Linked DNA regions of Homo sapiens. Changing the gene in region 2 together with the main gene of any one other region gives a genetic interaction. Each region holds a gene or a part of one and is shown on either strand. Other genes may lie near its edges. The genes, in order: SEC22B and BOD1L1.

Region 1 (3,828 bases), on a different chromosome or scaffold from region 2:
ATCTGTACCCCCATGTTTACGGCAGCACCATTCATAATATCTATGGATAGATAATCAAGAGAAATGTCCATCAAGAGAATAATGGATTTTAAAAGTGTTTTTTACACACACACACACACACACACACACACACACACCATGGAATACTATTCAGCCATAAAAAAGAATGAATTTCTATCATTAGCAGCAACATGGATAAATCTGGAGGACATTAAGTTAAATAAAATCAGTCATGCACAGAAAGATAAATATGGCATGTTCTCATTCATATGTAGGAGCCAAAAAAAATTTTTGAGCTCATGGAAGTAGAGAGTAGAATTGTGGGTATTAGAAGTAGGGAAAGGTAGAGAGAAGGGGAGGATGGGCAGAGGCAAGTTAATGGATAAAAAATTACAACTGGATAGGAAGAATGAGTTCTGGTGTTCTGCAGAACTGTAGGGTGAATATGGCTAGCTATAACTTACCACGTATTTTCAAAAAGCTACAAGATTTTGAATGTTCACAACACAAAGAAATGATAAATGTTTGAGGTGATGAATATGCTAATTACTCTGATTTGATTACACATTGTATACATGTATTGAAATATCACTCTGTATCCCATAAATATGTATAATTATTACATGTCAACTGAAAATAAAAGGGAAAAATTTAAAACATAAGGAGGAGTTTAGGGGCCCAAAGCATTATATATACTCCCATCCTTGCCCTTTCTATGTGGCTCCTGAGGCATCCTAGGGCTCCATAAAGGATAAAGACTATTATATGATCTCTCAGGCCCCTTAAAATAATATTAATAATACAGCTGTCTTATTCCTTGCTTGGGCACCTGAGTTAACTGGTCTCTTTGCTTTTAGTCTACACCATCTTCTATACCATCAGTTTTATTCCCAGAGACTACAGATGACCATATTACCCTGCTTACAAACTCTAAGGGTTCCCTAATACCTACAAAATAAAATCATACTCCATGGTATTATATTTACAGCCTTTCAAAACAAGTGTAAGCAACATTCTATCATATATTTTAATAAACCAAATGGCGGACTGTTCTCCAACATGCTAGGTTCTTTACATATTTGTGGACTTCTGCTTATATTGTTTTTTCTAACCGTTAATGCTCTTTTAAATACCTGGAGAAATCCTGTTCATTTTCATATGTTCAATTCTACCATAATTTTTTCTGTGAAACTTCTTTATATATACTCCCCTCCTCTGTCCCGTTTCTTCAAACTTACCCCCTACAAATGGGAATTTGTTCCTTCCTTCTCTCTGTTCCCAAAACATTTCATTTAAATCTAATTTACAACATCTTTTCAATTAAGATATTATAGTATACTTGTTTGAGTATATGTCTCTCTCTCTACTAAGAGAACAGTGTTAAAAGGTATGGACATTAAATGCAGGACTCAATATAAGGTCTGGCAAAGAATAAACCCTTAATAGCTCTTGGATGGAAATAAAGGATGATATGAGATTATGAATGTCCTAAAGGAATCAGGCAGAAGAAAATCTCTTCTCAATTCCATGAGAACTTTCCTAGGTCTTGGTTCTCTAAACCATGGTGAAAATGAGGATACTAGATATTAAGTGAGTGACTATTTTTGGTGTTGAAAATTAGAGTTCTAGAAAATATTTCAGATATTATAAAAATTAATACATCATAAAACATAATGTCCAACATTTTCTTAGCCAATTGCCTAGGGTTTTATTTTTGTTTTGATGTACTTTTTACTTGTCTTTTATAGGTAGAGAATTTTTGTTTTGTTTTTTAAAAGTAAACATAGCAGCTTCCTCCCTGGCCTAAGTTATCTTACTATCTAAGTCCCTAAAATGGCAAAGATTATTTAACTAATCCGTTTTTATTTTCCTCTGATGCTCTTGTACTCTTTTCCTTTTTAATCCTTCCTATTTTGTCAGCTTCAAACTTGGCATGTATTAAACATTAAATACCAATTATTTGTAGATAATTTAAAATCCAATAATGTTCCTTTGAGTCCTCTATCAGCTGTATCATTTATAACCACTGATTAAGATGCTCTTATCTTTTATAATTTTCTTTTTTCAAAATAATAATAACTAATAATTATTGACTCTTCCCATGTGTGTCAGACAAGATGCTAAGTAATACACACAGATTCCCTCACAATCCTCTCAAACCTCCTATGTTTATTTTCACTACTTTATAGAGGAAACTGAGGCTTAGAGAAGTTATGTGAGCTGTTCAAAGTTACACTGTTAGGAAATGTTTGAGCAAGGGTACTAACCTACACATATCTGGCTCCAAGACAGTCCTAAAGCAAGAAGTTATCTATTATTGCATGATGGGCACAGCATAGACACATGTTAACAGGTTAAATTACTGTAAGCATGCTGAAAAAACCAACAAGATGTCCATTTTGTAGAATTAGAGCCAGAGAAGTTGCTCCTCCCAAAAGACAACATTTTTAAGTAATCTTTACTTTTTAAAAATTATTATTTTTTATCAGGCATTCTGTTACTGTATTTCACTTAAATGATCATAAAGAAATCAAGATTACACTCACTGAAAAGTCATGGCTCCTGCTTCCAAGGTACATCTGGTAGGGGACTGTTCATTCAACTTTCGAAAGAGTTGCTTAGCCTGACTCTGATATTGTTGAAGGTCCCGGCCAGACTGAAAGAAGACATCTTCATTTAAGAATTTTCCACAAAATGCTGTATCAATTAGTGAGAAGCATCATATTATGAGGACACTCTGAATGAGGTCCTTCATTTACAGGTAAGTAAGATTCATTTTAACGGAGGAAAGACAACCTACTTTCAGAGTACAGAGGAAGACCTAACCCCTACTTCTTCAAGATGATCGCATTAGTTATTTGCTAAGAAGCAAAAGCATATACCTCAAATACACTTAAGCACTCTTAACTTTCAATCCAGTGTTCTTTCCACTATTAGGACAGTACTCTCCTCCTAACCCATTTCATTTGCAGTTATTGGCACAGAACTACACAGCATGTGCTATACTCAGGGGAATATCCTAGGAACAAGATTGGTGAATTTCATTTTTATGTTGGAATATCCAGCAGAACCTTCCACAAGTGTTACAGTTTTTAGCATTTAAACAAAACTAAATGTGTGTACTAGTGACTGCAAATTATTACGAACACTTTGACTGCAATTACATAAAAATGACCAAGGGTAGAGACAAAGATTAGGATGTCAGATACCCTTTACTGAAGAAATCTATTTGGTTCCCAAGTTTGGACAGCAAAAGTTTGAATATCGAGGGATATATGCAGACAAAAATGAAAATAATAGCATTCACATGTTATAATTACAGGTAATATTTTCCTGAACAATTTCTAACTGCTTTTACAATTATTTTTGTTAAAAAGAGGGGGCAAATCTACTGGAAAAACCAGCAGTGTCATTTCAAAAGAAGAAAACCATGCATCTCCAATCTACTAGATCCAACAGGGAAAGGAAGTGCCTGAAGAATGGGAAGCAAATAGACATTGTTTTTCCATCCACATGTGGGGTAGGGGAGCTTTCTGCCAGCTACCCAGCTATAGTCTGAATGTTTGCTGGTATCCCCCACAAAATTCATGTTGAAATCCTAACCCCCCAAAGTGATGGTATTAAGAAGTGGGACCTTTGGGAGGTGATTAAGTCATGAGGGTAGAGCCCTCATGAATGTGATTAGTACCTTTATAAAAGAGACCCCAGAGGGCTAGCTTGCTCCATCCACCATGTGAGGAAACAGCCAGAAGGTGACATCTATGAACCAGGAATAGGCCCTCAATAGTCACCAAATCTGCTGGTGCTTGATCTTCACCTTGCAGAACT
Region 2 (3,828 bases):
ACAAATTTTAAGCAGAGCAATGACAGGGCCTAAGTTATGTTTCTAATGACTACCTGCAGGACTGTGTGAATCACACTGGAGGAGGGCTGGAGTGAACTAAGCCTAATGGAGAGGCTACTGAAGTAGTGGCTTAGCCTAGGGTGATGACTGTAGAAACAGAAATAGATGGACTCATGTTATATTTTGGAAATGGAACCTGTAAGAAATGGCGATAGATTAAATGTGGGATGACGGAGAAACTGAGGGTGACTCTTGTGTTTCTGGCTTGAGTAAATGAACTGATGATAGCACTATTTACTAAGATTACTGAGGTTCTTAGCTTTCCCCCCACAGGATATGGCAATAACAACACTAAATATCATAAGTACAATGAGAACAGGACCTATATACCACATAAGTATATATATGTGTATATGTGATGAAACAGTATTTAATCACTTACAGTTCAGCACAGCTGAATTATAAGCCATACCTCCATTTTCAAGTTGGCTTTCAGTTTCAATCCTCCCAAAACATTCAATGGAGACTCTTCATTGCCTAATAAAATTCAAGCCATTTAGTACAGTTTAAGAATTTGCTTGCAAAATACATCTGGGGTCAAAAAGTAATGGAATGTGGTTATCTGACATGCTGTTGCACCTTCCTTTTCTGGTTTATTTTGCTGTCAGTAGAAAATGATCAAAAGGAATATGTTGTATAAAAGAATCTGGATGAAAGGCAGGGATTATTTGCTCATTTTGGGTGAGTGAAATTCTTATTTGCACAGTAAGATAACTGCCCAGAAAGAATGACAAAAGTATTATCTGTGGAGACATCTTCATTTCCAAGTATTTTTCTGCAGTGATCTCCATCAAGTTTGTCCTTAAAAATATTCTGAGTCACTAAGGTCTATTCTCAGTAAAGGTGATTTATTAACAGATTCACTTTACTTGCTTCACACTGAACACAGAAAAATTGAACACAAAGTTAAACTGTGAGGTAGACAAAAAGAAAAAATTTTCTCAGGTGCAGAGATTCAGTTCTACTCTGGTCTTGCCTCTTATATCCTTCTTTAGATTGTGTAGAAGCTTCTGTGGAAACCCTTCTATTTTCACTTCTTCAGGAAAAAAGGAGGAATGAGTAATTGTAGCAATGATTGAGTCATAAAAACTTCTGGAGCATTCAATTTACTCCAGGCTAAATTCAACAGAAACTTGTAAAGTTACTTGTTTCAACCCTTGGAGCATTTCTTAAAGTCTCCTAAGTCTCTATAATGAACAAGACTAAATCTATTAGCCTCAGCTTCCTGAGACTGGGTTAGATGATGGCTAAGGTCTATTTCAGTTAAAAGTCCAGGATGCTACAATTTATATAGCCAGAGTGGAAAAGAATTCCTCTGTCCCTTCAAGTCCAGCCCATGAGGACCCTTTTGTTCCTACAGCATCCTGTGCTTAATCCCAGTCTATGCAATTGTCATGCTTTAAAGTGTCACTGTCCACTTTTCTCCAATCTGGACTGGTATAAAGTATCTGAAGTTGGACGGTATAAGGCATGACTGAGATAATATCTTTGAAAGTTATTAACTATTTCTAAAAGACCAGCACTGTCCAAAATCTGTCAGCAGGGAAAAATGTTTCTTTTCACTTTCAAATATATTCTAAACTAGAAACTCATTTCACCTGAAAAATAAGCTCAGTTAAAAATAACATGCTCCTTTGATTCAAAGGAACTAACAGACTGAACAAACAAATACTGCAAACCTATGATCAGATGAGGGTTGGAATCGTGTTTGCCTTTGTATTATCATCCCGTCTTATTATCCCCATTTTATACAACAAGAAATGGAGGCTCAGAAACTGATTTTTCCTCTAAAAGTCACCCGAGGACCATGAATGCTATTTAAATTTTCTGACCCTATTTCCTCGTTTGTAAAATGAGGGTGGTAAAAAAAAAATGTATTGCTTTCATTGGGTTGTGGTAGGGTATTCTTCTTTTTGATTGACAAAAAACCTGTAGGTCAAAAAGGTTTAGTAAGTTGCAGCAGTCATGTAAATAACATGTGGACTTCCCATGCCTCAGCCTCCTGCTTTTTCTCTCCCCACACATGAGAAATGGGCCAAAGGCTTTAAACTTTTAAACACAAGTAGCTTTTAGAGAAGTTTGACCTTCAAGTTTGATGAGAGTTATTTTGCAACATTATGATATGAGAAAAAAATTTATAGATATTTTATCTTTCTGGAACCAAAACCATCTTTTGGAAGACTGTCCTAAATGCACTCTGTTGTACAATCATCCTTGTAAATATTAAAATTTGCAATTAGGTACAGATTCTCACCTATGTCACACACATTTTCTTCAGAAGACACAGTAACCATTATGTCTCCTTCCTCAGGGAATGATTTCCTTGTGCTGTTATCATCTCCTGTTTTCTCAGCAGATGCTTGATCAGTCCATTTGCCACTATAATCATTCTTTATAGTCAAGTCCTGCTCACATTTAGGAGCCAACAGAGCTACACTGTAAGTAGCTGGAGGGATCATTGTGTGGGAAGGAGCAATTTTTGATTCTTGGCCAGTAATACATTTGGTGGTACTGGTTTTCAAGTTGTCTTCAGACCCCTGCTGCTCAGCAGGAAGAAAGGAATGCTCAGCCACGGTCCCTTGAACAGGTGGCATGTCATCAGCTTTTATAGCACCGGTGTTTACTGCTGCCAAATAGCGAATGCTGACAGAGGGATCCTTAGCCGTCTGCCCAGACGTCTGTTCTGGTCCTCTCAGGTGGGCAGGTGAGTTAGCATTCCCCTCTAAGCCCCTTCCTGCTGAATAACTTGCTGTGCTACTGCCCCCTGCTGTCCCTGTCTCTGGGCTCTTATCTTCTTTCTGAAGGGAGTTCAACAATACATTCTTCTCTTCTGCATTTATGAGGTGTAAAGTGCTCTCTTTCTGTCCTCTTCCTGCAAATGGTCCTATTTCGGGGCACTCCTTGCCATGCTTCTCTTCTTTTTCCGCACAAACAGCACTTGGATGGCCTTGCCCTGCAGAGGGCTTGTGGACTGATGGCCCGTTGTGCCCCTCCTCGGTGCTCACTGCCAACACGGGACCCGGTTCTTTGCCTCCCCTGACTGGCCCAGGACACCGACAGTTATTCTCAGCAATTAGGCTGGGCATGGGGACCTTGTGCTTGCTCACTTCTGTGGCTGACAGGTCACCGTTCCCTTCTGGGTTGTCTGCAGTCAGCTGATTCTCTTCATGTCTGTCAATGCTGGCGGAAATTGGCATACATTCTGCTGTGCTGGTGGAGATGATGGCAGCATCGCTCAAGTCTTCTACTCTTGTGATGGTGAGCCGATCTTCATCCTGGAGGACAGCACCAATCATGACTGCTTCACACCCTTCAGAGGTGCTTGTGGAAATCATGGCGGTGTCACCCATCTCTTCCGCTGGTGTGACTGAGGGGTCGCCTTCCTCTTGAGGGACAGCACTGGACACTGGGCCCTCACAGTCTTCCACCGAGCTCGTAGAGATGATGCCACTCCCGTCTTTTTCTTCCATGACTGTGCCAGCTCGCTCATTTTCACTTTCAACAACTACACCGGAAACAGAAGCCTCACATTCTTCTGCTATGCTAGTGGAAATGAGAGCACATTCATCCTTCTCCTCCTTGCTGGTTGAGGCAAGAGGACTTTCAGCTTCTGGGGGCGCACTGGGCATAGGCCCCTCAAAGTCGGCGGTGCTTATCAAGACTGGACCTGTAGCCCTTTCTTCCACTGCTGCAGCAACCGGCTGAAGACTTTCAGCACACTTGATGGTTGTTGCACTGGAGATAGGCAATTCGAATTCTTCCCCTATG

What was found.
Region 1: changes in BOD1L1 (region 2) and SEC22B together harm fitness more than expected from each alone (negative genetic interaction), as found in Homo sapiens cells (one large-scale study listed by BioGRID).

The regions. Positions count from the first base shown.
Region 1 is NC_000001.11:120,166,294-120,170,121, forward strand, and holds part of SEC22B (vesicle-trafficking protein SEC22b), read right to left. Parts: intron 2,657-3,828; coding exon 2,547-2,656; intron 1-2,546. UniProt on the Homo sapiens protein: SNARE involved in targeting and fusion of ER-derived transport vesicles with the Golgi complex as well as Golgi-derived retrograde transport vesicles with the ER.
Region 2 is NC_000004.12:13,596,632-13,600,459, forward strand, and holds part of BOD1L1 (biorientation of chromosomes in cell division protein 1-like 1), read right to left. Parts: coding exon 2,315-3,828; intron 538-2,314; coding exon 473-537; intron 1-472. UniProt on the Homo sapiens protein: Component of the fork protection machinery required to protect stalled/damaged replication forks from uncontrolled DNA2-dependent resection.